Regions from separate parts of the Homo sapiens genome. Here all the other regions are linked to region 2. The links come from fine-mapping of genetic effects on gene expression. A gene starts in region 2. Each other region holds a variant in brackets. All regions are shown on one strand. Distances are between the middles of the regions.

Region 1 (5,065 bases), 170 kb before region 2:
AGAGGCCGAGACCCCCAGGGAGCGCCCAGGCCTGAACCCCTCCTGCGCCGCTGACCCTGCAGATGCTGCCGTGGGCGGCGACCGCACAGACATCCCCTCTGCTATTGCTGCGGGACCGGCAAGGACGCCGGACCGACACGGCCTCCCCATCCCTGGGTCCACCCCGACTCCCATGGTGGGGAGCGGCCGGCTTGGAGCCCCTGTGGGACGGAGTGGAGGTGGAGCAAGTGCCCGGAGCTCTCGGCCATCATGTGCGAATGTTTTGCTCCGTGCTGACGCCTCCCTCGGCACCGTCCTGTCTGTGTTGTGGACTGGGCAGCTCTCACGGGGTTGGGCGCTTCTGCCCCCGGGGGACGCTGGCCGGCATCTGGAGACGTCTGTGATCTCCGCTGGTGTTGCCGCAGGCATCTGGCTGGTGGAGCCCGGGGAGGCCGCCCAGGACCCTGCGACCCGCAGGACCGCCCCGCCGCGGAGGACGGCCAGCCCCGAACCCCCAGCGCCCGGGGCACCCCTGCCTGCCTGCCCTGGGCGGATCCCCGGGGCCGCGCGGTTCGGGCCGCGCTCCTGCCCGCTGGGGTCTCCCGCCGTCCTCGCCGTCACCACCGGGTGGAGCCACAGGTCCGTGTGATCGTCCCCGTGACCCCGGGTTCCGGAAGGATCCTCACCCAACGCTGGCCCAGCCCGGCTCCCAGGACCCTTCACAATCCTAAAACCATTCGGGCTTTTGTTTACGTGGGCGGCCGCTGTGGACATTCACTCTACCAGAAACAGAGCATTTAAAAATGTTCACCTTTTCACGTAAAAATAGCAATAAATCCATTGCACGTGAACATAGCATTTTAAGGAAAAGCAACTGTTTCCCCATAAAAAAAAAATGTAGTGGGAAGAAAAAGAAGGCGTGACTTTGTGCTGGATTCTCATGTCTGCGTCTGCTTGCAAGCCGGTGGCCTCCGGAACATTCCGCCCCACACTTTCAGGAGAGTGGGAAGGAGGCCGGGCGCAGCGGCTCAGGCCTGTAATCCCAGCACCTGGGGAGGCCGAGGTGGGCTGATCACCTCAGGGCGGGAGTTTGAGACCACCCTGGGCAACATGGTGAAACCCCATGTCTACTAAAATGCAAAAATGTAGCCAGGCGTGGTGGCGGACGCCTGTAATCCGAGCTACTCCGGAGGCTGAGGCACCAGAATCACTTGAGCCCTGGAGGTGGAGGTTGCATGGAGCCGAGACTATGCCATATGCCATCGCACTCCAGCCTGGGCAACAGAGCGAGACACAGTCTCAAAAAAAAAATAATAAGAATGGGAAGGAAACCGTTCTTAGAAGTGTCAGGAAAACAGGTTTGACCTCGGGGACCCTGGAAGCTTTCTGGGTCCCCTTTGAGAAGCATGGTCTGGACACAGCCGCCAGATGCCTGTTGTGGGGTCTTTACCAACGTTGCTTTGCTTCATTCATTCAGAGATGGAGTCTTGCTCTGTTGCCCAGGCTGGAGTACAGTGTGGCACAATCTCGGCTCACTGCAACCTTCGCCTCCCGGGTTCAAGCGATTCTCCTGCCTCAGCCTCCCGAGTAGCTGGGATTACAGGCGTCCGGCACCACGCCGGGCTAATTTTTTGTATCTGTAGTAGAGATGGGGTTTCACCATGTTGGCCAGGCTGGTCTTGAATTCCTGATCTCAAGTGATCCACCTGCCTTGGCCTCCCAGAGTGCTGGGATTACAGGCGTGAGCCACCATGCCTGGCCATGCTTTGCTGCTTTTAAATCTTTTTGTTGAAGACGAGGATCAGACATATGTTATTACAGTTTTCAGAGTAGAAACCAGCTTGAGAAAATCCTATTTATAACCACAGTCACTCTGGGAGGTGAGACTCCTCAGTCCAGAGTCACTGAGGTCCGAATTGTTGGGGAATTACTCACAGAAACCCCAGAAGCAGCTGAGGAGAAGTGGGGCCGAGATGGGGGCCCGCGAGTACAGCCAGGCTGTGCAGAAACTCGGAGTGTGGCACGTGGGCTGCTGGGGCTCAGCCAGGCCCGTCTCTTCTCTTTTGAGGTTGGTGGAAATGCTGGGCTGATGTCATTATGGGTGAATCGTGCTACCTTAAAAAGTTTTTTTTGAGACAAAGTCTTGCTCTGTCACCCAGGCTGGAGTGCAGTGGTGTGATCTCGGCTCACTGCAACCTCTGCCTCCTGGGTTCAAGCAATTCTTCTGCCTCAGCCTCCCGAGTAGCTGGGATTACAGGCGCCTGCCAGCACGCTCGCCTAATTTTTGTATTTTTAGTAGAGATGGGGTTTCACCATGTTGGCCAGACTGGTATTGAACTCCTGACCTCAAGTAATCCATCTGCCTCAGCCTCTGGAAGTGCTGGGATTACAGGTGTGAGTCACCACACCCAGCCAAAAAATGTATTTTTTTGAGACAGGGCCTCCCTTAGTCACCCAGGCCAGAGTGCACTGGCGCCATCCTAGCTCACTGCAGCCTTGACCTCTCCTGGGCTCTAGTGATCCTCCT[G/A]CCCCAGTCTCCTGAGACCACAGGTGGGTACCACCGTGCCTGGCTAATTTTTTAATGTTTTTTTTTTTTTTTTTTGATAGAGACGAGGGCTCAGTATGTTGCCTAGGGTGGTCTTAAACTTCTGGTCTCAAGCGATCCTCCTGCCTTGGCCTCGCAAAGTGCTGGGATGACAGGAATCTTAGTACTTTAAACAAATAACAGGTTTTCTTTTGGGCAGCTGTGGGTTTTCTGAAACACTGAGGAGACAGAGCCGAGCCCCCATCTGTGCCCTCCCCGCAGGGTCCCGTGGAGGTGACACCCCACACTGGCGTGAACCAGGATCGACGCAGTTTACCGGAGTCCTCGGCCTTCACCGAGGGGCCTTTCCCCATCCTGGGACAGTTCCCGTCTGGCTGCCTGAGCACCCCTGGGCTGTGAACCCCCCTGGGCTGTGGCCATTTCTTGGACTTCCCTTGGTTTTGGTGGTCTGGGCGGTTTTGAGGAGGAAGGTCGGGATTTCCTAGAAGGTCCCTCAACCGGGGCTTACCATACTTTTCTCGAGGCTAGAAGGGACCTGTCACCTTCCCTGTAGGCACCCGTGTCCCTCCCCTGGCACTGGGAGGAGGTGAGGGGAACCCCAGAGAAGAGGTCACGTAGGGTCAGGCCTGGAAGCCAACAAGGCACGGGGCCAGGGGAGGCCTGGTGCCCTTGGGAGGTGCAGGGGTCCCGGGAGAGAGCTGAGCACCAGGAGGGGTGCAGAAGGCTGCCCCCTCCACACCTGCTGTGCCCCATTTGTTGTGGGTGGGGGCAGGGGTCTACCCAGCGGGAACACGTGGGGCAGCCCCCCTCCCCTGGCCTGGGGCCTCCTCAGCAGGGAGCAGAGGCTGTGCTTTCTTTTTTTTTTTTTTTTTTTTTTGAGACGGAGTCTCGCTCTGTCACCCAGGCTGGAGTGCAGTGGTGCGATCTCCTCTCACTGCAAGCTCCGCCTCCCAGGTTCACGCCATTCTCCTGCCTCAGCCTCCCGAGTAGCTGGGACTACAGGCGCCCACCACCACGCCCGGCTAATTTTTTGTATATTTATTAGAGATGAGGTTTCACCGTGTCAGCCAGGATGGTCTCAGTCTCCTGACCTCGTGATCCTCCCGCCTCGGGCTCCCATAGTGCTGGGATTACAGGCGTGAGCCACAGGGCCCGGCCCGAGGCTCTGCTTTCGTGGGGGGCTCTGGGTCTCTGGTGGCTGGACTCGGCGGAGGGTCCAGGTGTCCTCTTGGCTTCTCTGCACAGGCCTCAGCCCACATCAGGCACCCCCTGCCCCGCAGCAGAGCTCGCCCCTCCAGGCAGTCTCACGGGAATGCACGTTCAGGCCGCCTTTCCCCGGAACCCGCAGCGGCCTTTCTGGAGGCTGCTTCTTGGTGACTGGGGGCTCCTTGGAGCCGTCCCCAGCCTCAAGCGGCTGCATTGCAGCTCAGGGACCCCGAAGGGAGGACCACGTTCTGCCGCTGAAGACTCGGAGTCGCCTGGCAAGACGGAGCGAGAAGGGGAGGGTGGCTGGCATGGGGACTCTGTCTGCTGCCTCGCACCGCACCTTGGAGGACGCTCCGGCCAAGGCTGGGAGGGGCGAGTGCGGCTGCAGGCGCGCGGTGGCGAGGGAGGGTGAGGATCTGACCGGGAGGCGAGGAGGGAGGCTCTGGCAAGACGCAACGCTTTGGCGCCACTGCCGGCCATCCCCTTGCCACCCACCATCGCCCGCCAGGCCCTCACACCTACCTGGTCCTGGCGACAGCCGGTGTGTGAAAAGCCTGTTTCCTCCCCTAGAAAAAGCACGTTTGGCTCCGCTCTCCACTGACACGTTTTTAGCTGAGTGACGATGGAAGCCGCTGGCTTTTAACAGACGGTCTTAACGAGCCTCTGCTCCCCGGCGACCAGCAGACGCGGGCTGACCCACGGTTTTACACACCACGTCTGCGTGGCGGCGGCCGGGCGGCCCCACGGGGCCCGGGCAGGAGGTGACGGCAGCGTTTCTCGCCGCCTTTGCTCAGCGCGCCTCTCATCCCCTCTCTCCTGTCGACTCGCGGCTTCCTGCAGACCCTCGGCCTGTCTGCGGCCCCTCGCCCGCAGCCTCCCCAGCAGCCGAGGTTTCCTATAGCATTAAAAGCAGGAAAGAACCAGCCCTGCTCCCCAGGAACTGAACTTCTGTGGCTCATCTTCAGAGAAGCCACTGTTGAGTGGGGCTCCTCGGGGGTGCTCCAGCTGCGGGTGAGTGACATGAGCCAGACCTCCCCGTTTTTTTTTTTTTTTTTTTTTTTTGAGACTGTTTCGCTTTTTTATCCCAGGCTGGAGTGCAGTGGCGTGATCTCGGCTCACTGCAACCTCTGCCTCCCGAGTTCAAGTGATTCTCCTGCCTCAGCCTCCTGAGTGGCTGGGACTACAGGCGCCTGCCCCACACCCGGCTAATTTTGTATTTTAAGTGGAGATGGGGTTTCACCATGCTGCCCAGGCTAGTCTCAAACTCCTGAGCTCATGCCCTCCTTGGCCTCCCAAAGTGCTAGGATTATAGGTGTGAGCCACTGCCCCCGGACT
Region 2 (5,068 bases):
TTTCCCAGACCATCCTTCCTGAAGTCCCCGCCTCTGAGAGGTGCTTTTGGAGTTACCTGCTGCCTGCCTCCCTCCACAAGGCCAGCGTCTGCAGGGCAGGAGCTGTGAGGGTGGCCCGGCTCCATCCTGTGTGGGAAAGTGCCTGGCACACAGCAAGTGCTTAATTAATACCTGGTGACCCTCAAGCCATCCCGACACCTCCCTCTCTGAAAGCTCCGTCCCGGCGTCCTCTCAGGCCTAGTGGCTCACACCCGCGGAGGACGAGGTCATTTTCCTGGGGACTTCAAGGTGGACCAGAGATGACTCTGGAAGGGGGGTTTGTGGGCACCACTCTGCATGGGGATCCTCACCCACATACCGCCCTCCCGGGAGTGCACCAACACGTCCTCAGCTGACTGGCCTAGGCCCCCACCACCCCGCCACAGAGACTCCCCACCTCCCCACCCCTCCTGTGGCAGCCTGCACGCCCAGCACCTCCCCTGGTGATCACTGCAACCTGGGGAAAGGAGCAGGCGCTGTTGGAGCCTGAGGCAGGGTCTCAGTTGCACAGACCACCGTGCCCCAGAGTCAGGGCCTGGATGCCACTCCCCAACCTCAGTCTCCCTTCCTCCAGGGGTGCTGGAGTTCCCCACCTGTGTCCCAGGGACTTGAAGCTTCCTTGGTGGATGGGGAGCCAGGAAGAGGCCACCCTGCCTGCTCGCAGACCTAATGCAACTGCTTTTCTTTGGCAAAGAGAGCTCTCCACGGAGGTCCTCACCCGGATGGCACTGTGAGCCCGAGTGGGCGATGTCTGCTCTCCCAGGGGCAGGGGGTGGAAGGTGGCACAGTTTGGACCGGACCCCCACCCTCACTGCTTCCACTTAAACCCCCACTTCTGCCTGCCTGCATCCCAGGCCTAACAGATGAGTTCCGCGGGCGCCCCAGGCGATGCTCTGAGGGCCACGGAAGGATGCGGGGACCCCGAGCGGAGGGCAGGGCCTCCAGGGGGAAGAGGCACTGCAGACGGAGGTGTGGGTCTTCCCAGGCAGGTGCCGGAGCCAAGCGAGATGGTGGGACGGGGAAGAGAGGGCAGGCCAGGCTGGCAGCCAGCTCTCCACCTACGATGCGTGGAGCCTCCCAACTCGCGCACTCCGTCTCCCCACCGCTGCTTCCTCTGACCTGGCTGCAGAGATGAGACCGCCCTCCGGGCAGGTGACACGGCCCTTGCTCTTCAGCCTGGAGGCCAATGCTTCCTCCAAAGGCCCTGGCCCCCTCAGCTCCGGGCCTGGCTCCGGTTGTTCCCAATGCAAAGCAGCAAGGGCCCCGGGGTCTGCGGACGGGGGCGGGCGGCCGCTGGGGGCACCAGCTCTCGGCCGGGCCAGAACAGGGGGTAGGAGGCGCGTCCTGTGCGGTCGGTGGCGGCCCCAGGTGGGTGCGGTGCGCTGGCAGGAAGCGGCAGCACGACCCCCGACTTTGCATCTGGACTTTTCTAGTAACGGACCAGCTCCTTCTGCCGACCGGGCCGGGGAGACCGCGTGGCTCAGTGGCTGCAGCGGCCACCGGCCCGGGCGTGGGGGCTTTGAGGGCACCGGCGCGGTAGGTCACCCGGGTTTCGCGGGCCGCAAGCTCGGAGACGCGCGTGTCCCGCGTTGGCTGCCTGACCCGGAATGGCGCAGCCCCTTCGCCTCCAGCGCGCTGGTTGAAAGGATCCGAGCCACCCTCGGGGACGGCCGGGCCGAGGCCACCTCGCGGGGCGGCCTTGGGCGGGGACCCGGACCCGCGGTTGGACGTTCGCCTCGGGGGGGGCAATGTCCCCTCTCCGACCCCGCGGTCCCCACCAGGGCGGCACACCCCGCCCTCTCCCCGCCTCCGCAGGCGCCCAGGGCTCACAGGCTCGGAGCGGCCTCCGCCTCTGCCGGACCACCCAGGGCCGCCCCGCCGGAGGGGCCTCCCCGCCCCCGAGCCCTAGGTCACGCCCGGAAGGCCCGGGGCCCCCGCGTCCGGCCACGCCATCCGCCCGGCGGCCCCAGGGACTCAGCGCCGGGGTCAGCGCAGGCCCCGCCCAGCGCTCCCGCCCCCTCCAGCTGGCCGGCCCCCGGGACCGCGCCCCCGCCCGCGCTCTCCACGCTCGCACTCGTATGGGCAGGGCGGCCCGGGGTCCCCCAGCTCCGAGCCGCGGCCCCTTGAAGCGCGTTACCTGGACGTGCGCTGTCCGCAGACTCTGGACGAGCTGGGCCTGGGCGCTGCGCGGCGGAACCGACCCTGTCCTGGACCGCAGGCAGCAGCTGACCCCGCGCCACCGGCCTGCGGGCGAGACCTCAGGCGCGAGACGGGCTGTGTGTGTGTGTGTGTGTGTGAGAGAGAGAGAGAGAGAGAGAGAGAGAGAGAGAGAGAGAGAGAGTGTGTGTGTGTGTGTGTGTGTGTGTGTGTGTGTGTGTGTGTGTCGGGGGAGGGGCCCGAGGACCCGCTTCCTAGCTGAGCGTCAGGACGGGGGGCGGACTCTCAGGAGCCGCGCGGCGCCCGCAGAGGAGAGGAAGCGCCGGAGACCCCCCTGCTCCCACCCGGCCTCCCTGCCCCGCTTCCTTTCCCGGGGCTCCAGAGAGGGGAGCTCCAGGCGTGGGGCGCCTGGCCCACGTGGTGCGGCGCCGGGCGGGGCAGGCGGGGGCGCGGCGAGAGCCGCGGAGCTTTCTTTATGGGTGGGGGGGCGGGGGCGGCCGGGCTCCGCCTCCGGGGGATCGGGGCGCGCTCCGCCAATGGGTAGCCGGGCGCGGGGCGGGGCCGCGGGGCCGCCGCTTAAAGAAACTTGTTGCGGGTCCCGCAGCGGGACCCGAGCCTCGGCGGCGGCGGCGGCGGCGGCAGGGGCGAGGGTCGGGGCCACCGCGCGGCGACCTCGGGTCCCGGAGCGACCGCAGGGCAGCCCCGGGCGCCGGCCCCGGTGCGCGTCTCCTGTGCGCGCCCCTCCGCGCGCGGCCCCGATGCTGGACATGAGCGAGGCCCGCTCCCAGCCGCCCTGCAGCCCGTCCGGCACCGCCAGCTCCATGTCGCACGTGGAGGACTCGGACTCGGACGCGCCGCCGTCTCCCGCCGGCTCCGAGGGCCTGGGCCGCGCGGGGGTCGCGGTGGGGGGCGCCCGGGGCGACCCGGCGGAGGCGGCGGACGAGCGCTTCCCGGCCTGCATCCGCGACGCCGTGTCGCAGGTGCTCAAGGGCTACGACTGGAGTCTGGTGCCCATGCCGGTGCGCGGCGGCGGCGGCGGCGCGCTCAAAGCCAAGCCGCATGTGAAGCGGCCCATGAACGCATTCATGGTGTGGGCGCAGGCGGCGCGCCGCAAGCTGGCCGACCAGTACCCGCACCTGCACAACGCCGAGCTCAGCAAGACGCTGGGCAAGCTGTGGCGGTGAGTGCCGGCGCCCCGGGGGCGGGGTTCGGGACCTTGGCCGCCCCTGGTCTCGGACTGCGAGCGGGGGCCTGGAGGGCGCAGAGCTCGCGGAGGTGGTGGCCACACGCAGGCTCCGGGCTCTGCACCCCGGGCGGGTGTCAGGGCGGGTCCCAGTGGAAAAACATCCTCTGGCCAGCCGGGGTCCGGCGCCAGCTATGGGAGTCGGGATCCGCGGAGGGCAGCGCCTGGGGTGTGCACCCTCGTGGCGGGTGCGCTCTGGAGCCAGTTCTCCTGGCGGGGAACACCCTGCGGAGGGCCATGGCTGGCACCCCGACGTGCCCTCCAGCCGTTGCGAGTGGCCCCAGCCCCGGGAGGCACGCCCGGCACGACAGCAAGTTGCATGCGGCTCTCTGGAGGTGCTCCCTCCTTAGAAAGGGCTCAGCTCCTCTAGCTCCTGGACCACCCATGGGGAGGGAGTGCGGCAGGCGGATGGGTGGGCAGCAGGTTTGCCTGCGAGTACCCTCCCCGCAGTTTCTCCCTCTCCTGGACACCCTCGGTCCGAAGCAGGGAGGGCAGGAGTGGAGATGACGGGGTGCGCCGTGTGCACGCCTTGGCGTGGTGGGGCCGGTCAGTTTTCCAGAAATTAGGACTGCAGAGTGAAGAACTTGTTGCTCAGGACAGGCCGCCCCCACCGAGTGTCCTCTGGTTGGGTTTCAAATGGTTCTCTTGGTTTGGGGCTCTGGTTCCCGTATCCTGCTCCTCACCTGGAAGAAGGGAGCTTGGAGCTTGCGTATTTGCACCTCCTGCCTTCTGTCTGGATCTAGGGCGCAGCCACGGGGCGCTGTGGACGGCAGGCCCCTGCTCCCCCAAGTCCTGCCGCACAGGCGGTTGGAGGTGAGCCTCGGGAAGAGTCCCAAGGAGTGTGTCCTGTGGCTCAGTGAGGACGGGCGCCTGGGCCCTGCCAGGGCTTCTGGGTGTCTGGGAATGGAGGGACAGCAGCCCAGCTGCCCGCCGAAGGCCGGCACCGTTCCCGGGAAGCCTCGCTTTTGTCCACCGCCGGCTGGGTCCTGCCCGCCTCCCCCGCCTCCCTTAGAAAGCCCCAGAGGGAGGGAACAGCAGGCCCGGAATAGGGGGAAATAGAAGGAGGAAGATGGGAGGCGTGGGGCTTGTTCTTCTTTGGCTGTCGTAAGCATACCAACCTTCCCAAACAGGCGCCGGCCGGTTCTCCCAGAGGAGTGTACTGCCTGGTGCCACGGGAGGCTCCGGAGCGCACGGCAGGCGGGTTTCCCTGGTCAGAGCCTCCTGGCCCCGGCCTCTGCTGCCGGTTCCCCCTGTGGTGTGTGCCTGCGCCGAGGGCACAGTGGGCGCCCTGGCCATCCCTGCCTCTGCCCTGTGCTGCAGCTTGCTGAGCGAGAGCGAGAAGCGGCCCTTCGTGGAGGAGGCAGAGCGCCTTCGCGTGCAGCACAAGAAGGACCACCCCGACTACAAGTACCAGCCACGGCGCAGGAAGAGCGCCAAAGCCGGCCACAGCGACTCCGACTCGGGCGCGGAGCTGGGACCCCACCCTGGCGGCGGTGCCGTGTACAAGGCTGAAGCAGGGCTTGGAGATGGGCACCACCATGGCGACCACACAGGTGGGCTCCAGGCCCCCCGCATATCTGAGGGTCCCTGTATGGGAGGCAGCTGTGGGGTTTCTGGCTGAGAAGGGTG
Region 3 (5,068 bases), 22 kb after region 2:
TTTGGCGGGGGGGGGTGGCGGCCGGGAAAAGCCCCCGGGACCCTGACACTGGCAGCTGTCTAAAGTCCGTGAAATCCCAACCACTGCTGGCCACGGCATCCTGGGCCCCGACGTGCAGGCTGCCCAGTGGCGCCTCTAGGAAAAACTGCTGGGTGTGAGGGGCAGATATGGGGGCTGCGAAGTGAAGCCTGGAGGTTGCGGAGTATCCACTGGAGGATCAGCCTGTCGGGGTTAGGCCCAGGGGTCCCCAAGCTGAGGGATGTTCAGGGCTAAAGCCAGGAGAGTCCCAGGCAGACGTGTGGACGGTGGGTCTCCCCTGTTCAGCTCCCCAGGCGCTGGCCTTTCGGGTCTGGAGGTGCTGCCCCTCCCATTCAGTGGGGTAGGGCCCTGCCTCGGTGCCCCCGGGACACGGCAGCTATGAGCACCTGGCTGGAGTGCTGAGGGCCTCCCAGAGCTGGGGCCCAGGTGGCTTGGAGATGCCTCCTCAGCTCAGCATTTACCGCGGGGTAGGCAGCTCCAGATGCCTGGAGCTGAGGGCCTGGCTGCGGGGGTGTGGCAGTGCCACATGGCTGCCCAAGTAAAGTGCCATGAGCCGAGTGGTTTAGAAAACAAACCTGTCCTCTCACAGGTCTGCAGGCCAAAAGTCTGAGATCAAGGCTTGGGCAGGGCCACGCTCCCCAATGAGACTCCAGAGGAAGATCCTTCCTGCCTATTCCAGCTCCTGGTGGCTCCAGGTGTCCCTTGGCTTGTGGCCACATCGCTCCAACCTCTGTCCCGGCTTCACGCGGCTGTCTCCTCTGCATGTCTGTCTCCTCCTCTGCTTCTATGAGGACACTCATCGCTGGATTTAGGTCCCACCCAGATAACCCAGGATGACCCCACTGCAAGATCTTTTGATCAATTACATCTGCAAAGACTCCATTTCCCAACCAAGCCAGAGTCACAGATTCCCAGGGTCAGCTGTGGCCACCGTTCAGCCTGAAACATGCCGCGTCACCTCACCCAAGCCTCACATCGCCCCGTGAGGAAGCCACCGTGGAGGTGAAGTTCAAGTTCTCACCACCTGCCCTGTATGATTTCTCCTCCAGGGAACCCTGGGTGTCCACGGAGGGGCCGATGGCTGTCCCTGGCCCGTCATGGGGCCCCAGCTCTGACACCTGAGCTTCTGAATTCACTTGTTTAGTTTTTCAGGAACATTTTTTCCTTCGGTGCCTTTCCAGGGAGCCCCAGGGGTGGGGGCGTGGAGTTCTCCCCTGGGCCTCCGAGGGGCTTCTGCTGCCTGAGGGGTCCGTCCAAACTGTAGCTCAGATCCGCCGCTGCTGCCCTCCTGGCCCAGCGGAATGCTGGCACCTCCAGGAGCTCTTGGCAGTGAGCCACGTGGTGGACAGTCCCTTGCTCTGAGGGCCCTGTCACCTGGGCACAGTTCAGGGTCCCTTGGAACTGGAGATGTGGCAGGAGGGAGGCCCAGCCCCCTTCTGGGCTCCCTGAGGCTCCACTGAATCTTTGGAGGGGAGAGACGCTGGATTCCTGGTGGTGACCTGAGGGCTCACACAGGTAAACCAAGCAAGACCGTGGGTCTGTGGCACCCCACATCTGTGCACCTGTGCAACCGCAGTCTGATGTCCCTCCCCGGTGAAGGGACCCGCACATGTGCACCTGCCGCAGCCCCGATGTCCCTCCCCGGGTGAAGGAACCCACGGACGTGGCTCATCCATACCGCGGAACGTGAGCCATGAAAAGGGGCAGCCTCGGCTCAGCCACCGCAGGGAAGGACTCGACACACGCCGAGCAGAAGAGGCCAGGCCTGAGAGGCCACCTGCGATTCCATCTGCGGAAATGCCAGAAAGGGAGGTCCGCAGACGCAAGAGCTGGACTGGGGGGACGGCCGAGGGGCGAGGGGTTTCCTTCCGGATGAAATTGCCCCAGAACGACATGCAGGGCGTGGGGAGGTGGCTGCAAGATACTGCGGCCCCGCTGGATGCCACAGCACCCCATGCCGTGAACGGCTAATTCTACGCCATGTGGATCTCACCTCAATCAAACAATTGGAAGATTCCCAGCAGCTGAGATGACTCACGTTCGGGGGTGACTCATCCAGGCCACCGGCATCGCGTCGCTTAAAGACAAGCCTGACCTTTCCCCAGAAGCCTCAAGACCACAGTGGCCTCCCACGGCGGAGGGCAGTGCCCAGGGCTGGTGTTCATCCAGGGCACGGGACAGGCCTGAAGTGCAGACATTTCCTCTGCCAAGCAGTGGACGCAGGCTCGGCCCCCGCTGGCCAGGGGCGGCTCTAAGTTTGGAAAAACGAAAGTCCCGTGGCAGAGTGGGCCCCTGGGGTGGGATCCTGGAGCCAGGGCTGGGCCAAGGTGTGGGTTGAGAGACCCGGGGGCCTTCCCTGCAGCTGGCATGGAGTGATGGGGAGGGGGTGCTGGGTGGAGAGGGAGCTATAGAGGCCACAGGAGGGGTCCCTAGCCTCCAGCACCATGGCCGTGGTCTGGGGGGCATCCTGGCAGCCCCATGGAGTGGCCGTGTCCAGGGACTGAGCTCCAAATGAGGAACCGTGCGGGGTCCAGAGACCCTGCACTCACGCGGCCGGGCCCCACCTGCTGCCACAGCCCCCTCATGGGCCTCGCTCACACCCACTCCTGCACACAGCATGCGGCCCCACAGCCCCACGCCAGACAGTGTCCAGGCTTTGTGGAAAGTGCTGCTCTGACGGAAGAGGCCTGCGCAGGTCCTGCTGGCCAGGAGCCCGGTGGTGGTCCCGGGAAGGGGTGGATGGCTGCCAGCTGCTTTCCTGGGAAAAGCCCAGAGCCCCTCATGCCCTGCACTCCTCTGATGGCAGCCTGGACACGGCACAAGGGGACGCCCTGGAAAGCCCTCGGCACGCGGTCGTGGCGGCATCAGGCCTCACGAGCCAGGGCCCATCAGAGGCGGAATCTGACCTGGGCTGAACTCAGGCCCCCAAGGTGCACTGGTTGAAGCCTTA[G/A]AGGAGGGACACGGGGGGCTGCGACCCCACAGGCTGCTGTCCTTAGAGGAGGGACACGGGGGGCTGCGACCCCACAGGCTGCTGCCCTTAGAGGAGGAGGCAAGGTCCACGGCAGGCACAGAGGGACCAGCCCGAAGGCCCCTCAGGGGTCTGGAGGGCTCTACCCCCTGAGGTCGTCCACTGTCCTGGCCCGAGGACCCTCTGCTGCCCTGTGTGGACCCCCTGGGCATGAAGCACATAGGGCAGTGGGTGGCACTGACGGAGCAGCCTTCTGGAATGTGCCGCCCTGGCTCGTGCCGGCCCCGCGTGTGGCCCCGGGAGCTCAATTTCCTGACAACACTCAGTCCTGAGGTTTCCTGCCCCCTCAGAACCATTGATGAGTGTTTTGTGGTTAAGAAAAAGAAAAAGAAAACAAAACCAAAACCTGTTATTTTTCCCAAGGTGAACGTGAGCGCCCTGTGAGGAGGCCCAGGCGATTTCCCACCCTTCACATGCGTCTCCAAGCCCGGAGCACGGCAGGCACAGGAGTGACCAGCAAGCCTGGCCCCAGCCCCAGCCCCAGCCCCACTCCTGGGCCTGGGTCAGTATTGATTCAGGGAAGGTGGCTCCAGCCTTGCCCATGGTGCGGGGAGCATGTGGGGTGCCCCAGGAGGCTGTCCAGAGAGACCCCTGGAGCCGGGTATCCACACAGACACGCAGGCGGGGAGGGGGCAGAGATGGGGGAGTGAGAAGAGATGGGGGCTGGGCGCCGTGGCTCATGCCTGTAATCCCAGCACTTTGGGAAACTGAGATGGGTGAATTGCTTGATCTCAGGAGTTCAAGACCAGCCTGGCAACATGGCAAGACCCCATCTCTACAAAAAATACAAAAATTAGCTGGGCATGGTGGTGTGTACTTGCAGTCCCAGCCAATCAGGAGGCTGAGGTAGGAGGATCACTGGGGCCCAGGAGGCAGAGGCTGCAGTGAGCCAAGATCACACCGCTGCACTCCAGCCTGGGCGACAGAGTGAGACCCTATCTCGAGAAAAAAAAAAAAAACAGATGGGGAGGGAGAAGAGACGGGGGAGGGGGTAGAGATGGGGGAGGGGACAGAGGGAGCAGAGATGGGGGAGGGGGTAGAGATGAGGGAGGGGACAGAGGGAGCAGAGACAGGGGAGGGTGTAGAGATGGGGGAGGGGACAGAGGGAGAAGAGAAGGGGGAGGGGGTAGAGATGGGGGAGGGGACAGAGGGAGAAGAGAAGGGGAGGGGGTAGAGATGGGGGAGGGGACAGAGGGAGCAGAGATGGGGGAGGGGGTAGAAATGGGGGAGGGGACAGAGGGAGCAGGGATGGGGGAGGGGACAGAGGGAGAAGAGACGGGGGAGGGGGTAGAGATGGGGGGAGGGGACAGAGGGACAAGAGATGGGGGTGTTCCTGTAGAGGCCCCAGGTTCACCTAGCCCAGCTGGCTCTCTCCACAGCATCCTGAACCCAAGGACTTTTCAGCTTCTTGCTTACCTCCTAAGACAGAGAGCTCATTCCCTGTGCAGGCCTCCTGTGCTGGGGTTGGGGAGCTTGGAGTGTGGCAAAGTGTCTGATTCCTTCTTCTTCCTTCAGCTGTGCACCCAGGGTCTGGAGCGACAGAGCTGGGCGTGTTACAAAGCCCCTCACCGTGTCGGGGCAGGCGTGCTGGGGACGGAGCTGGGCACCAGCTTTTGTGGTCCTGTCCAGCAACCCCCGCAAGGCTAGCGAGGGAGGTGGGTGTGAACAAGTGAGTGAATGGAAAATGGGCAGATGGATGTGTGGTGTAGACCCAGGAGGACTTGGCGCTCCTTCTGTCTGGAGAGGAGTGAACCCTCCCCGCAACACCCGATTGGCAGATTTTCTTCCAGCCTCCACGGTGGCCGAGCCAAGTGTTATAAAAACACAGGAGAGTATGTCAGGACAGGCAGGGCCACACTTTGCCGCAAGGTGACAGGTTAAACAAATCCCTCCTCAGAATTTACTGCCTTCATTTTTGCTTCAGAGCAAGGCCCTGCCACGGGATGTATTTCATGCAGAAATATCTCCCCTGAGCGCCCTGGGGGGCAGGACGCCTGCTCG
Region 4 (5,068 bases), 140 kb before region 2:
TTTTTCACCCTTTTTTTCGTGTGTCTCAGACAGCTGGCTCCTTAAATATTAATCAGGGTCATTGAGATGCAAATGCGTGCCCACCACAGAAGGCCCCGCAGCTGCAGGGCTGGCACTGAACATCCTGGTGGCCCAGATGCAGCCCTGACCAGAGCCAGCGGCGAAGACCACCTTCCCTGAGGACAAACGGGCGCCGGCCCCTCGACAGGAGCAAGGGTGGCGTGGGCCTTGCTGGGTCTTGCTGGGTCTTGCTGGCCGTGGCTTTCCTGGCTTTCACTGCCCTTAAAACGAGGTGTCCTGGGGCCGGGCGTGGTGGCTCACGCCTGTAGTCCCAGCACTTTGGGAGGCCGAGGTGGGTGGATCATGAGGTCAGGAGATTGAGAGCATCCTGGCTAACACGGTGAAACCCCGTCTCTACTAAAAGTACAAAAAATTAGCTGGGTGTGGTGGCGGGCGCCTGTAGTCCCAGCTACCCCGGAAGCTGAGGCAGGAGAATGGCGTGAACCTGGGAGGTGGAGCTTGCAGTGAGCCGAGATCGCGCCACTGCACTCCAGCCTGGGCGACAGAGCGATACTCCGTCGCAAAAAAAAAAAACAAAAAACAAGGTTTCCTGGACAGGCACTCGCCAGGGCGCTCTCGAAGCCGTGGGGCTGGGGGAAGGCGCCGTGTGTCCGGCCTGTGGTGGGTTCAGAGGCTGAGTTTAGAAAAGTCCGGCCTGGGAAGCACATCACTGGGTGGACACGGTGACCTGGATGCAGGGGGGCGGCTGTGCTCGGGACACGGTGACCTGGATGCAGGGGGGCGGGGTGGCTGTGCTCAGGCTGCCCGGGGTCGACCATCAGCAGAAACAAAATAGGATGGAAGAGGCAGAGAGGCCAGGAGCCACAATGGCCCCGCCCGGAGCCGGGTCTCCTCCCGCTTCCTTAGCACACATGTTAGAGGACAAACCGCAGCTCAGCTCTTCATAATAAACACAGTGGAAGCTTCAGGGACTCAGAAGTGCAGCCCAGGCCGGGCGTAGTGGCTCACGCCTGTAATCCTACCACTTTGGGAGGCCGAGGCAGGTGGATTACTAGATCATGAGTTTGAGACCAGCCTGGCCAACATGGTGAAACCCCATCTCTACTAAAAATACAAAAATTAGCCGGGCGTGGTGGCGGGCGCCTGTATTCCCAGCTACTCTGGAGGCTGTGACAGGAGAATCACTTGAACCCGGGAGGCGGAGGCTGTGGTGAGCCCAGATGGCGCCACTGCACTCCAGCCTGGGTGACAGAGTGAGACTCCGTCTCAAAACAACAGCACAACACCCGGAACTGGAGGCTCTCACACGCCACAGTTAGAGAGATTTTCTGATCATAATAGTTTCCGCGTGGATTGGAACTCACGCAAAGCAGCACACACAGTGGACAGCGAGCTCCAACATGTCCACGGGTGAACATCAGCGTGGCCACCACCAGGTCCAGAGCACAGTAGACCCTGTGCCGCCAGTGTCCGTCGCCTTCCACACGTGGCCGCAGTTCTGTGCATGGGGCCGCCCGCCATCCTGCCGCCTCTGACCTGGGCTGTGGGCTCGTGACACGTGTCTGAGCTTTCCAGTCGTGGCCGTGACGCTCTGTGCGGAGGCTCCGTCCGCGTGCTGCCTCCGTCCCCTCTGCCCTGGACGGCCACTCACTACCTTTGTCTCTCACCCTGGGGGTTTCATGACCCCGGAGCCTCCACGTCCTGGTACAGAGCCTGCCTCTCCGGGACTGGGCTTCGGCCGAGCAGACACCGCCTAGCTGCTCTTTGACCAGCGTTCTCTGCTCTGCGTCTGGCTGGCATCGGCGGCTTGCTGAGTCCAGCCTGGCATCTCGCTGGCATCGGCGGCTCGCTGGGTCCAGCCTGGCGCTGACACGTTTCTGTGCTCATTTCATTTTACAAATCAACTCCCCAAGGTGAGGTGGGCTCGTGCCAGCAGGTGGGAGCCGGTCGTGCACGTCTGCCCAGCTCCGTGCTGAGTGAGGACGTGTTGGGGGCTTGAATCGGAGATGGGGGCGGGCACGGTGTTTAGATCACAGAAATTCAAAACCACATAAATCAGGGCTTTATCCAGAGAGCCGGGCATGATTTCCAAACACAAAATGCACCCATTTAAATGTAACCGACGGTTTCTGACAAGGGCACCCGGCACCACAGCTGAGATTCAGAACATTCCTCTCCCAGATCTCCCTGCGTTCCGGCCCCGGCAACATGGGCCTGCGTCTGTCACTGGAGTTGGGCCGCGGTCCTCCCTGCAGTTCCGCGAGTGGAGCTGCGCCCTGTGAGCTCTTTCGTCTGTGTTCTTTAGCTGAGCGTGGTGCCTTGGAGGGTCCGACGCTGTGCGTATCAACAGCCGGATGTGCCTGTTTCTGAGGACGATGGCTCCAAGATGACCCGGTTCACCCGTCCTCCTGCTGACGGACAC[C/T]GGCACCACCCCGGGTCCTGGCTGCAGTAAATCAACCCGCTATAAACGCTGCTTACACGTCCTTGTGCTTTCATGTCTCTCGGGCAGATACCTAGGAGTGGAGTGGCTGCTTCCTGAGGAAGTTCACGCTTCATGTTTCCAGAACTGACACTTCTCCAGAGTGGCTGCCTCCTCCCGTCCTGGTGGGCGTATGAGGCTTCTCCTCCTCCATTTTCTGGAAGAGCTTGGATAGGGCAGTGTTATTTCTCTACCGAGTATTGCATGGAACTCGCCAGTGAACACATCTTGGCCTCAAGTTTTCTTTGTGGAAAATTTTAAATTACAAATTCAATTTCTTTTTTCTTTTTTTGAGATGGAGCCTCACTCTGTCACCGAGGCTAGAGTGCAATGGTGCGATCTCCGCTCACTGCAACCTCTGCTTCCCGGGTCCAAGTGATTCTCCTGCCACAGCCTCCCGAGTACCTGGGATTACAGGTGTGCACCATCATGGGGGCTAGTTTTTGTATTTTTGGTAGAGACGGGATTTCACCATGTTGGCCAGGCTGGTCTCAAACTCCTGTCCTCAGGTGATCCACCTGCCTGGGCCTCCTAAAATGCTGGGATGACAGGCGTGAGCCACTGCGCCCGGCCCAAATTCAGTTTCTTCAATTATTATGGGACTCTTGGGCTTTCTTTCTTCGTCGGCTGTAGGGAGAGGATTAGGGTTTGGGCTAGCGTTCGTTTTAGTAATCTGTGCCTTTCACGGAGTGTTTCTCATTTAATGTAGGGTGCTGAGTTGATTAGAATAAAGTTGTTCATAATATTACCTTATTATTCCTGTAGCATCTCTGTGGATTTGTGGTGATATCTTTTCTTCTTGATATTGGCTATTTGTATTTTCTCACCTTTTTGCTAGATCATTGCAGCTTGGGGTTCACTGACGTTGTTCTGTAATGGATCCCGGTTTCCTGTAAACCCACGTATGTCCCGTGTCTGTAATGCGTCCCGGTTTCCTGTAACCCGTGTGTGTCCCGTGTCTGTAATGCGTCCCGGTTTCCTGTAACCCGTGTGTGTCCCGTGTCTGTAATGGGTCCTGGTTTCCTGTAAACCCGTGTGTGTCCCGTGTCTGTAATGGGTCCCGGTTTCCTGTAACCCGTGTATGTCCCGTGTCTGTAATGGGTCCCGGTTTCCTGTAACCCGTGTGTGTCCCGTGTATGTAATGTGACCCGGTTTCCTGTAAACCCGTGTGTGTCCCGTGTCTGTAATGTGTCGCGGTTTCCTGTAACCCGTGTGTGTCCCGTGTCTGTAATGCGTCCCGGTTTCCTGTAACCCGTGTGTGTCCCGTGTCTGTAATGCGTCCCGGTTTCCTGTAACCCGTGTGTGTCCCGTGTCTGTAATGGGTCCCGGTTTCCTGTAACCCGTGTGTGTCCCGTGTCTGTAATGTGTCCCGGTTTCCTGTAACCCGTGTGTGTCCCGTGTCTGTAATGGGTCCCGGTTTCCTGTAACCCGTGTGTGTCCCGTGTCTGTAATGTGTCCCGGTTTCCTGTAACCCGTGTGTGTCCCGTGTCTGTAATGGGTCCTGGTTTCCTGTAAAGCTGTGTGTGTCCCGTGTCTGTAATGTGTCCCGGTTTCCTGTAAACCCGTGTGTGTCCCGTGTCTGTAATGTGTCGCGGTTTCCTGTAAACCCCTGTGTGTCCCATATCATCTGGACTAGGTACCTTCTCCCAGCGGCCCGGGGTGCTGACCTGGCTCAGTGCCTCTTCTTTCCTTTGCTGAGTGTTCTTTCCTCTTTTTTGTTGTTCAGATGAGAGTCTGTTGATGTTCCTCCAGCATGTCCACATGGCTGCGGGTGAAGGGCTTCACAGTAGCCCACCGTGGGCAGGTGTTTAAGGAACAACTTCCAGGTTAGGAAAAAGATGAGGCAGAGGAGATGGCCCCACCTGCCACCCAAGAGAAAAAGAGGCTCAGGGAGGGGAGGAAAGGATGTTGCGGCCCGCCATCTGTCTGCACACCAACCGTCAGAGCTGACGGAAGCTTTCGCCAACTTGCTTCCAGCAATGGGCCAACGACAATCAAGGCGGCTATGACGGCCAGTCCAGGGCTGGTTTGAAAGCTGTAACAGTTTGGACAGTGTGGTATGACCTGGGCAGGTATAGATCACACTGGGTCAGGTGTAAACCCTAGAACGGTGAGCCACCAACCCAGACTCAGCGGGTCAGCTGCGGCCCCTGGCCAGGCGGCCCAGGCAAAGTAAGGTGGCCGCAGCCCTGCAGGGAGGGTGGCACTGTCCGCAAACCCTCCCGGTGCCCCGGGTTCCCCAATGCGCTCAGACCTGGGGGTGGGCACGGAGGCCCCCCAGCCTTCCCCTGCCTAGTGCCTGGGGTGCTTCTTCCCAGCGCCTGGAGGTTTCCATCCCTCCCGCACACAGCGCTTGGAGCAAGATGGGAGGGAGGTGCCTGCTTGCTGCCTCCTGCTGGTGTGTGGGAGCCCAGGTGAACACTGGGTGGTGCGGAAAGCCACCAGCGTGATGTGGGAAGGCCATTTGCTAAGCGCCAGGTGGGCCCGGGTGTGGGCTGGGTGGGCAGCCTGGCTCGCGGCGTAAGGGGCAAGCTATCCAGGCAGCAGTGGGCTGAGAATTGCCGGCAT
Region 5 (5,068 bases), 33 kb after region 2:
GTCGTGTGTGGCCTGCCTTGGCGTCCAGGAGACCATCTCCTCCGGTGGGGTCAGACCACAGAGGGGCCCTCTCTGTCTCTGCCCCTTTCCCTGGTGTGAGCAGGAGCACCCGGGCGACAGGGGCGCCTCTTCCTTGCTGCCCCACCCAGAGGGCAGCACACAGCTCAGTGCAGGAGGGACAGAGACCTTCAGGCCCGAATTACCTCCGGCCAACACTCAGCCTGCCCGCAGGACCTCGGGCCACCGTGGTCCTGTCCGCCCGATATTCTTCCAAGTCACCCTCAGCTTCGAGTCTACTTTGAAAGGAGACTCCCCATGGCAGGTTTGAGACACTGCCGGGGTCCCTTCCTGTGCACATTGGAAGAGACGTGGAGGCTCCGGCAGAACGATCTGAGCACCTGATTCCGCACTGGGGCCGCAGCGCGGGCTCCCTTTCAGGGCGTTGGGGGCCACGCTTTGCCCCTCTGTTTAGTAACACTCAGGGGACCCTGAAGGCAGGCAGGCAGGGTCCGCGGGATGGGGAGTCTCACAGCAGCCCACACCCCAGCATCTTGCTGGGAGGAGCTGGGGAGCTGGGTAAATCGGGGAAAATCCATCTCCAGGGCTCCCCTGAGGCTGTCCCCATTCCCAGGAAGGCAGGAATTACCCCACCCTCGGCCAGCCTCTGCCTGCCTTTCCCAAGATGATTCCAGAGCCCAGCAGCTCCTCTGGGACCCACATGGACTAGGCAGGCGGCTGGAGTGCTGTGGAGCACGGGGAAGGGCCATGAGAGCCTGGGACCCTCAGGCTCAGGACACCATCCTGGTGGCTGCTGATGGGGGTCAGCATTCTGCCCCTGCATCCTGCCCCTCTGCCCAGGGTCCGGAGGACTCACCGGGCTGTGCCCCCACCTGTGTGCCCTCCCCATGTCAAAGAGCAGGCGGGGGCGCCTGACAGGGTGAGGCCGAGGGTCCAACCCTCAGCCCCATACTGGCCGCAGGTGGTTCCTGAAACTTGTGGGACTGGAACCTCCTGTTGGCTGAGACCCCGGGGGGTGGTTGCAGAGGTGGGGCTGGTCTGGGAGTAAGCAGGGCAGGACACCTGCGGGGTTGCTTGGCCTCAGGTGGGCAGAGGCTGTTGGGGGCCTGGAGAGCCTGGTGTGACCTGGGGGCAGGCTGGGGTGGGGGATGAAACCCACAGGTGCCCCCAGTCAGATGCACACCCAGGACACACATGCGCACACGCAGGACACACGTGTGCACACCCAGGACACATGCGTGCACACCCAGGACACATGCACGCACACCCAGGACACGTGCACACACAGGACACACGTGTGTGCACCCAGGACACACGAGTGCACACATAGGACACACACGTGCACACCCAGGACACACGAGTGCACACCCAGGACACACCCGTGCACATGGAGGACACACCCATGCACACACAGGACACACATGTGCACACACAGGACACACACGTGTACCACTGTGCAGCCCTGCGCCCCCTCACTGCGTCCTGTTGCAGGCCTGTGTTGCTGTTCCATGTGCTGCCCTCTGCCTGCACGCAGGTGCCCATCGCCAGCGGGGCTGGGATCTTCCTGTGGTGCTCCTTGGCCCCTGCGTTCTGCCCGCCTAAGTGGCCCCTCCGGCTGGTCCTGAGCATCTGCTTGCTCAGCTCTGTCCTGGGCTGGGCTGGTGGCATTGAGGAGGAGCTGGCTGGGCGCTGGGTGAGGCAGGACCAACCCAGGACAGGTGTCCAGCTCTTGACAGGAGCTCCTGGCCCAGGCTGGTGGCTGGGGAGGGGCTGTAGCTGCCAGGGCTGGGAGCGCCTCCTCCACCTGCATCGGACCGTGCTCCGGAGGCCACGGTGCTGTGGAGGGTGGTGGCGGATCTTGGGCAGGCAGAGGCTGCCAGGGGGCCTGGGCGGGGCCTGGGGTGACCCAGGGGCAGGCCAGTGGGCTGTGGAGACTGGTGGTGCTCCAGAGGCCACAGTGCTCTGGGCTTAGAGCAGCTGCACCCGGAGGCATGCCCTGGACGTGGGTCCAACTCTGCGTCATGCAGCTGGGGGGCAATGGACGCGCCCCCCTTCCTGGCCTCGGTGTCCTCCCTGTAGCTGGGATGGCTGAGAGGAGAGGGGAGAGAGAATTGGTTTAGGGGACCTCGCCCAGGAAAGCTCATGATCCACTCTGTACCCACTACGGGGAGGGAGCCGAGTTGTGGGCCCAGGACACCCCTTCTGGCTGGGAGGAAACGGTGGAGGGGCCTGGAATTCCTCCAGGCCTGGGGGTTGCTGGGAGCCCTGATTTACGGCCCCAGCGCCTGCAGCCCCCCTCCTGCCCTGACAGTTCTCGTTGCAGCCTCCAGGTAGGAGGTGTTGGCGGGGCTGGGGCTGGGGTGGGTTTCCAGGTCCCCTCTGCCCATCCTAGGCTCAGTCCTGTGAGCTGAGTGGGTGAGCTGTGTCTGTGGGGCTGGGCTCTGTGTGTGGGCTTCTGAGGGGTGGCCCCGGGCCCCTGTGAGTCTCGGTCTTCCAGTCCGTGGAGTGGGGTGGACTTGTTCTCTGATGCTGGCCGAGGGGGCCTCCTACAGTGGGGGCTGTGGCCTCCATGGGTCCACCTGCCCATCTGTCTGGCCAGCCTGCCCTGCTGGAGGACTCAGTGCCCGAGGCCGGCTTCCTTGTTCACCAAAGGGAGAACAGAGCCATGCCTCCCTCCCAGCCCTGAGCAGGGCCTGTGCCGGGAGGGCCAGTTCCCCTGGCCCAGAGTCGTCTCCCTGTCCCAGCCAGGCTGGAGGTGAGTGGGACGAAGGGGTCCCCAGGGCAGGTGCTGCCGGTGAGGAGGAGAGTGGCTTCTCCGAGGTTGCAGCGAAGGACGGCCAGGTCTGGAGAGGATGTGGCCTGGCCAGTCCTGACGCCGGAGGTGACGTGGCGAGGGCTGGAGGTGGCTCCTCCTGGGAGGCTGCCCCGGGACAGAGGTCTGGGCTGCGTGTGTTGGGCCTGGCCCACTCTCCGTGGCCAGATGCCACCCACCCCCAC[A/G]TCTGCTCAGAGCAGAGGGCAGGCCAGCAGCTCATGCCAGGGTAGGCAAGGCCTGTAGCCCTCAGAGCCTGCAGCAGAACATAGAGCACACTCAGCCCACTGTTTCCCATGGATCCCTAGAGCCCCAGCACTGCTGAGATAGTCCCCAGGCCTCAGTCCCACCCCCAGACACACACACGCACACACACACACAGAACTCTTGTCGCCCAGTCTAAGCCAGCTCACCCGGCAGGAGCACATTCCTGCAGGCCCCGGGGATGCTGGTGTTTCAGGATTGTGTCGAGTCCACTGCAGAGGTTTCCAGAAGAGCCGACAAGAGGCGGACAGGGCGGTGGACAGGGCGGAGCTGCACTCACAGGGGTGGGCGCAGCCGTCCTGGGAGCAGGGGTCTTGGCTGAGGACCCCGGGCCCTTCTGCTTTGAGCTGTGGGTCTGAGGGGCCTCCGTGCGGGGCTGGCCCTGGGAACTGTGGTCACTTGAAGCCCACTCCTCCTGCTGATGTCCACCCAGGGACAGGCCTCCTCCAGCAGCTGGCCTCAGAGAGACAGCCGTGTGCCCAGACCCACAGGTCGCGTGCTTCTGCTCTATACAGCCTTCATGGGAGACTGGGGTCTCTCCAGCCAGGGCACCAACAAGCGCCCAGACCCATTCCTGGCCCTCGTGTTCATAAAATCCTTGTGGCTTCAAATATTTTTCAGACTTTAGTCGTGGTGGTTGTTGGAAAGGGCCAGCTTCCTGCTGCAATGATCCCTGAATCCTCTCCCCAAGCTCTGCAGGCCTGGTCTGATAGGTCACCCACAGTGGCGTCTCCTTGAACTTAAGAGCAGGCTGCAGGCCAGGCGCGGTGGCTCAAGCCTGTAATCCCAGCACTTTGGGAGGCCGAGGCGGGTGGATCACCTGAGGTCGGGAGTCCGAGACCAGCCTGGCCAACATGGTGAAACCCTGTCTCTACTAAAAATACAAAAATTAGCCAGGCGTGGTGGTAGGTGCCTGTAATCTCAGCTACTCGGGAGGCTGAAGCAGGAGAATATTGAAACCAGGAGGTGGAGGTGACAGTGAGCCAAGATCACACCACTGCACTCCAGTCTGGGCAACAGAGCGAGAATCTGTCTCAAAAAAAAAAAAAAGAAAGAAAGAACCGGCTGCAGAGGGCCCTGGGTTGGAAAGAGGGGGCATGTGGTGGCCCCTGCAGGGGGTGACATCCTGCGGGGGTGACATCTGCCTTCTAGGGAATAAGACCCTGAAGCAGGCAGGTGGGCGAGGTGGGGAGGCCTCACAGGGTTGGGAGCAAAGGCTCCAATCCCAACCACTGAGGTGCTGGTCTGGCTTCTGCCGTGTATCAACTGGTGACCTTGGGCCTGCCTCAGTTTCCCCATCTACATAGCCCTCCTCCTGCCCGGACCTTGTTGGGATTAGCCAAGTTGACACCTGACAAACACCTGGGCACACTCAGCGGAGTGAATCGTCCACAAATGGTACCCCACAGCCCCCCATACTGCGGGTGTTTCCATCTTTGCTTTGCCCGCCGGGAAGCTCTGTGTGGAGTGTGACCCACCCTGGCACTGGCTGCCTCTTTAGGGTTCTGGGCACTCTCTGAACTTTGTAGTTTCTTTGGCATTTTTTTTCTTTCCTTGTTTGCTCTTTATTAATTTTTTCATAATTTTATTTCTCAGACATAATTCACATAAGAGTCACCATTTTAAAATGGACGGCTCAATGATTTTAGCACGCCCACTAAATGTGCTGGAATTGTGTAACCATTATCACCATCGATTTTATTTCATTTTTAATTTTTGTGGATACACAGTAGGTATATATATTTATGGGGCACATGAGATGTTTGGATGCCAGCATGTGGTGCGAACTAAGCATGATCCGTTTTAGAACATTTTATCACCTCCCAAAAGAAATCACCTAACCTTGGCCAGGCACGGTGACTCACGCCTGTTATCCCAGCACTTTGGGAGGCCGAGGCGGGCGGATCATGAGACCATCCTGGCTAACGCAGTGAAACCCCGTCTCTACTAAAAACACACAAAAAATTAGCTGGGCGT
Region 6 (5,068 bases), 59 kb before region 2:
CCACAGCACGCACTGCATGTCCACATTCCCCTCTCTACACACCACACCCCAAGCGCTGGCTCCACACGGACGCAGGAAAGCATCAGGACCGGAAAGCACAGGAAAACGTGCTTGCCAGGCAGGCGGGCTGGAGAGCTGAGCAGAGACACAGAGCCTCGGAGGAAGGCCAGGCCCACTCCAGAGCAAGAACTAAAATCTCCAGAGCACAAATGCCCCTGGCTGAGCTCAGCAGCAGAGTGAAGAACGAAAGAAAAGGCAGTGAACACGAAGACATAGCAGCCACAGTGACTCATTCTAGAGATGAGAGGCTTTTAGAAAACACCACACAGAAGCACAGGGCCCAGGAGCTCGTGGAAGGCAGGGAGAGGCCTGATGTCCATGTCCGTGGAGCCACAGGAGAGGAGAAAGAACATGGGGCAACCCCCCCAAATATTGGCAAAAATTATCCAAATTTGGTAAAAAGTAGGCATATCATAGTCAAGAAACTGGCAACGGAAGATAAAATCCCCAAAGCCATCAGAGAAACATAACACGTTACACTGGAACGTCAGGAATGATAGTCGACTTCCCGTCCAAAACGAGGGACAGATGGAGAGAGGGAGCCAGGCGCGGATCCTTCCCCAGGGGCCCCTGCATGCCCAGAGCAAGCATCTGCAGGCATCTCCAGCAGCAAAGGACACCGCTGTTCTCCCCGGGGAGCTTCAGTGTCATCAGAGCCTGAAGGAGGAAGCAACTCGGCACCACGTGGCCCAGAGCAGGCTCGTGAGCTGGCCTCGGTCAGCAGGTCGCCTGGGTCTCTGTCTCAGTGCTCAGCAGGGCGAGGACAGGACAGAACGGGCCCCATCACAGACTGCGCTTAGAAGGAACTCAGTAAAACAAAGACCATTTTCTTCTGGAGGCAACTCAAGGAGGTAAGACTGTGAGTCAAGCGCCTTGGAGGATAAGAAGTCCAGGTAAGTAGAAGGCAGGAGGAAGCTTCCCTAATATCACCTGCAAATCTGCTTCCACTGGGGCATTCTGTTCCCCTTTTCAGACAGCGCAGAGCCCTCCTGCGGTGAACAGTCGCCATAGCCCTTCTTGAGGGGCTGCTGGGTCCAAGACCTCCTGGGTGGGCACACGGACCTGCGCTCCCTGCAGAGACGTGGACAAGGCAGGCCCTGTGGAAAGTTCACCCGCCAGCCAGGCACCGGCACAAAGCCAAACCCCCCGGCGGAGTGTGTGGGGGCAGGGACAAAACGCTCCACGCGTTCTCACAGGGACTCGCCCTTAGAACAAGACAGCTGTATCTCTGTACAAATGCGGGCGGTGACGAGTGGGGATGACGGGACTTTCTGGGGTGACGGCCACTCCCTATACCTTGATGGGGCTCGTGCAAGTTCTTTATGGAGGGAAAGACGCAGTGTGCGGTGAGTTCCAGCTAATGATGTGGGAAGCATTGACACCAGCCCCACCCTGATGTGCGCTGAAGCACCGACGCAGGGACGGGGGACACGGGCGAGGAGACCCACTACGTAACAACGCAGCAAACCCCGTGAACAGAACCTACGGCATCCAGGCGGTCCCCGTGCGGGTTTTACTATACAATTCTTAGGAGAAAAACAAAGGTTAAAAGGTTTGAAATGTAAAAAAGATTGACTACATAGAAAATTTAAAAACAAAACATAAGTAAGAGAATCTACAGAAATAGGCTTAGCCGCTGAGAGGTGTTAGCAAGGTCTGGGCGGAACATTAAAAATCCTGTGAGTGGGCCTGGAAACCAGCGTTCCCCCACAGCTGAGGAGTAAGGGGAGAGAAGCAGCTGTTTATCCCAGATGAGGTCCAGAGAGACGCATTCCAAGCAGCCAACACGGGACAGAGGCGATGAGGGAGGGCGGCCTGGACAGAAAACTTCCAGGCAGATCGGGGCACCCTGTCTCGCAGGCCCAGCCATGCTCCTTGGCAGCAACCACCCAGGGGCTTTCTCACAGGCAGACCAGGGCAGCCTCTGGTCCCTGCACAATCTCGCCTCCGATGCAAGGTGGGAGAAGGCAGCCACCTCCCGAGGGGGGCCACAGAGGGGGTTCTGATCCAGCTGTGAGCTCTCACCCCCAGCCCACAGCGACTGGTAGCCAGGTAGGCAGAATGGCAGGCAGAGCGGCCACTGGGGAACTGATCCAGCAGGACCTGAAGCAGGGAGACAGCACACGGGCGTCCACCTAACGTGGCCAGCCCTTGTGTGGACAAACAGCTGAGAAAAGGCATTACTAACATGGACGTGAAGAAAGTCGCCTCGGTTTTTGGGTGTGATGTGGTGTTGGTGTCGTGTTGTTGCGAAGGCCCTGTCTGAAAGTCGCCTCGGTTTTCTGGTGTGATGTGGTGTTGGTGCGTGTTGTTGCGAAGGCCCTGTGTGAAAGTCGCCTGGGTTTTCGGGTGTGATGTGGTATTGGTGTCGTGTTGTTGCGAAGGCCCTGTGTGAAAGTCGCCTGGGTTTTCGGGTGTGATGTGGTGTTGGCGTCGTGTTGTTGCGAAGGCCCTGTGTGAAAGTCGCCTGGGTTTTCGGGTGTGATGTGGTGTTGGCGTCGTGTTGTTGCGAAGGCCCTGTGTGAAAGTCGCCTCGGTTTTCGGGTGTGATGTGGTGTTGGTGTCGTGTTGTTGCGAAGGCCCTGTGTGAAAGTCGCCGGGGTTTTCGGGTGTGATGTGGTGTTGGTGTCGTGTTGTTGCGAAGGCCCTGTGTGAAGGTCGCCTGGGTTTTCGGGTGTGATGTGGTGTTGGTGTCGTGTTGTTGCGAAGGCCCTGTGTGAAGGTCGCCTGGGTTTTCGGGTGTGATGTGGTGTTGGTGTCGTGTTGTTGCGAAGGCCCTGTGTGAAAGTCGCCTGGGTTTTCGGGTGTGATGTGGTGTTGGCGTCGTGTTGTTGCAAAGGCCTGTCTTCAGGTGTACGAGGAGGCATTTCCAAATGCAGGAATGTGATGCCTGGGATCTGCGTCATGGCAAAACAGCAGGGGCAAGGAGTGTGGGGCGGATGTGGCAGCTGCTAACACTGGCAC[G/A]GTGCACTGTGGCCTACGAGGGTCCCCAGCTGTCCACAGTTCATTCCTCCCCATTGCGTGGCTTCCTGAACAGCCATGTATTTCCTAACTCTGCCGGCTGAGGGGCTGAGAAGCTGCAGCACCCCAGTAGTAACGGGCACCCCAGCACCCACGTCTTGGTCTCTAAACACCTTCCCCACTAAAGCATCAGGCTTCTCAGGGAAGCCAATAGTCCCGGCTACTCAGGAGGCTGAGGTGGCAGCACAGCTTGAGCCCAGTAGGTTGAGACTAGCCTGAGCAACAGAGCAAGATCCCAGCTCTAAAAAAGAGAAATCCTCCCTAAGAGCACTGCTTTAGAAGGACGTGGAGGAGGGGCTGTGGACTCTGAGCCTTACCCTCAATACAATGAGGTCACCTGCTCCTGGGAACCATCTTAGGATCCCTGGAATGGGCAGAGGGACAAACTCATCAGTGGCCCCCAATCTGGCAGAGTTAACCTGCCCCACAATCTCCAAATCCAGAGGCCTACAAAGCATCTGCTCCAAGCAGTAACAATGAGGTCCTGAGCGGAAATCTTCACAAAGTGGAGAGAAAAAACTGATGGATTGTCCAATGTGTTTGATTCTGTAAAAACAACAGTATTGGAAAGGGTTGACCAGTTGTGCTGGTAAAGTTGGAACAAATGAGTGAGATATGATCAGAGATGAAAAACGAAGCCAATCAAAATAGAAAAGGCAACTATGAACTCCAGGAAAAATGAAGAGTTATTAGAAAAAAAGTTACTATAGTTCACTATTTGGCTCAGCAGTCACAATATTTACAGAGTCAAAATAATGTAAAGACAATCAAACTAATAAAAATTATACTTGTGACACAGCTATACTGATGATGATGAGAAGAACATTAGGGTGTGTGAGGGCAATCCCTGTCGTTCATAAGAGGACATGTATACACAGTGTCTAACCGTGGTATGCGAAGAATAACCCATATAAACCTATCAGTCAGAAAGACAGACAAATACCAGAGTTAAGTGCAGGAAGTGATAAAAGGGTTGTCTGGAGAACAGCATGTGGCTGAGAAGTGGTACGGCAAGGGCTTCTGTTTTTATTATAAGTCGTGTAATACAATTTGACTATTCATGCACATGCCCATTTTTTTTTAATAATTAAAAGAACAATCTTCAGGCCACACTGGCCACAGTGTAATAAAATCAAAGTTGAGAAACAAAAGGCCACCTGTAAAACCCTGAGCATGTGGCATTTTCGAAGCATTTCTCCAGGCTGTCCTTGGTCTAGAGGCATTAGCGCTGAAGGTTATAAAACCACACCATCGGCCACTGTCAGGGGCAGCCGGGGGTCTCAGATGACAGGGTAGGGCAGGGACATACCCAGAAGTGGGTAGCCGCCCTCCAGTTGGCTTTCATTAGCAGAGAAGAAGAGACAGAAAATAGCTGAACCAACTCCAGGCACTGGAAATGATAAACCACTTTCTCCCAGAAAAAGCAAGCAACTACAAGAGGCAAAAACGAATGAGCTAGAGTATATTTTAAAATTCTGATAGATAAAACCAGCTCTTTGAAAAGACCCATAAAGGGGATGATCTATGGCGGTTTAGGCAAGGGAGAGTGAGGAAAAGGAGGAAACAAGTATTGAGGCCCAGGCGGGAGAACGGATGCAGACCTGCTAGGGGGTGGCAAGGCCACCGCACAGACTGTGCCCTCCAGCCGGCAGCGGGGGGTGGAGGGGAGGAGCGGGTGCAGTCAGACCCCCGTCCGCAGAGTGCTGGGTGCGAGTCCCCAAATGCCTGCTGGGCTGAGCTGCCCCCTGCGGAATGGGTGGTGACGAAACCGCCCTCTTCAGCCACACAGGAAGCCCCTTGCTCACTGTCACTGTCACTAATCCACTAGGAATGAAGAGCAGATGCCACCAAACATCCTGCATCCATACAGTTAAAAACAATTAAAAAGCCACGTTGAAGATTCTAGATTAAAGCCACTCAAGTGGATTCAGCACTGGAAGTATGAATCACAGCAACAAAACACTTCTTCAGTAGTTTAGAATTCTGC

The links.
Region 1: its variant is fine-mapped to the expression of CEROX1 in prefrontal cortex (CommonMind, PIP 0.95).
Region 3: its variant is fine-mapped to the expression of CEROX1 in whole blood (TOPMed, PIP above 0.99).
Region 4: its variant is fine-mapped to the expression of CEROX1 in whole blood (TOPMed, PIP above 0.99).
Region 5: its variant is fine-mapped to the expression of CEROX1 in aorta (GTEx, PIP above 0.99). The same link has a PIP of 0.9 or more in tibial artery.
Region 6: its variant is fine-mapped to the expression of CEROX1 in whole blood (TOPMed, PIP above 0.99).

Annotation. Positions count from the first base shown.
Region 1 is chr16:813,234-818,298 of GRCh38, forward strand. No RefSeq gene overlaps it. Among named protein-coding and RNA genes, the nearest start is that of GNG13, 15 kb to the left of the region's middle. RefSeq lists a silencer at 489-568 and an enhancer at 3,907-4,407. The variant G/A (reference allele first, on the strand shown) is at 2,507.
Region 2 is chr16:978,969-984,036 of GRCh38, forward strand. It overlaps CEROX1 (cytoplasmic endogenous regulator of oxidative phosphorylation 1), which reads right to left and starts at 2,645. Exons shown (of 3, transcript NR_164343.1): 1 at 633-2,645; 2 at 57-142. SOX8 (SRY-box transcription factor 8) reads left to right here and starts at 2,802. Exons shown (of 3, transcript NM_014587.5): 1 at 2,802-3,376; 2 at 4,760-4,992. The coding sequence starts at 2,955. It also overlaps a transcript of LMF1 not described here.
Region 3 is chr16:1,000,828-1,005,895 of GRCh38, forward strand. No RefSeq gene overlaps it. Among named protein-coding and RNA genes, the nearest start is that of SOX8, 22 kb to the left of the region's middle. RefSeq lists enhancers at 1,075-1,731, 3,383-3,432. The variant G/A (reference allele first, on the strand shown) is at 2,990.
Region 4 is chr16:843,163-848,230 of GRCh38, forward strand. No RefSeq gene overlaps it. Among named protein-coding and RNA genes, the nearest start is that of GNG13, 45 kb to the left of the region's middle. The variant C/T (reference allele first, on the strand shown) is at 2,444.
Region 5 is chr16:1,011,918-1,016,985 of GRCh38, forward strand. No RefSeq gene overlaps it. Among named protein-coding and RNA genes, the nearest start is that of SOX8, 33 kb to the left of the region's middle. RefSeq lists a silencer at 2,439-2,640. The variant A/G (reference allele first, on the strand shown) is at 3,016.
Region 6 is chr16:920,257-925,324 of GRCh38, forward strand. The region is part of intron 3 of LMF1 (lipase maturation factor 1); the gene reads right to left. LMF1-AS1 (LMF1 antisense RNA 1) reads left to right here and starts at 777. Exons shown (of 2, transcript NR_110946.1): 1 at 777-911. The variant G/A (reference allele first, on the strand shown) is at 3,025.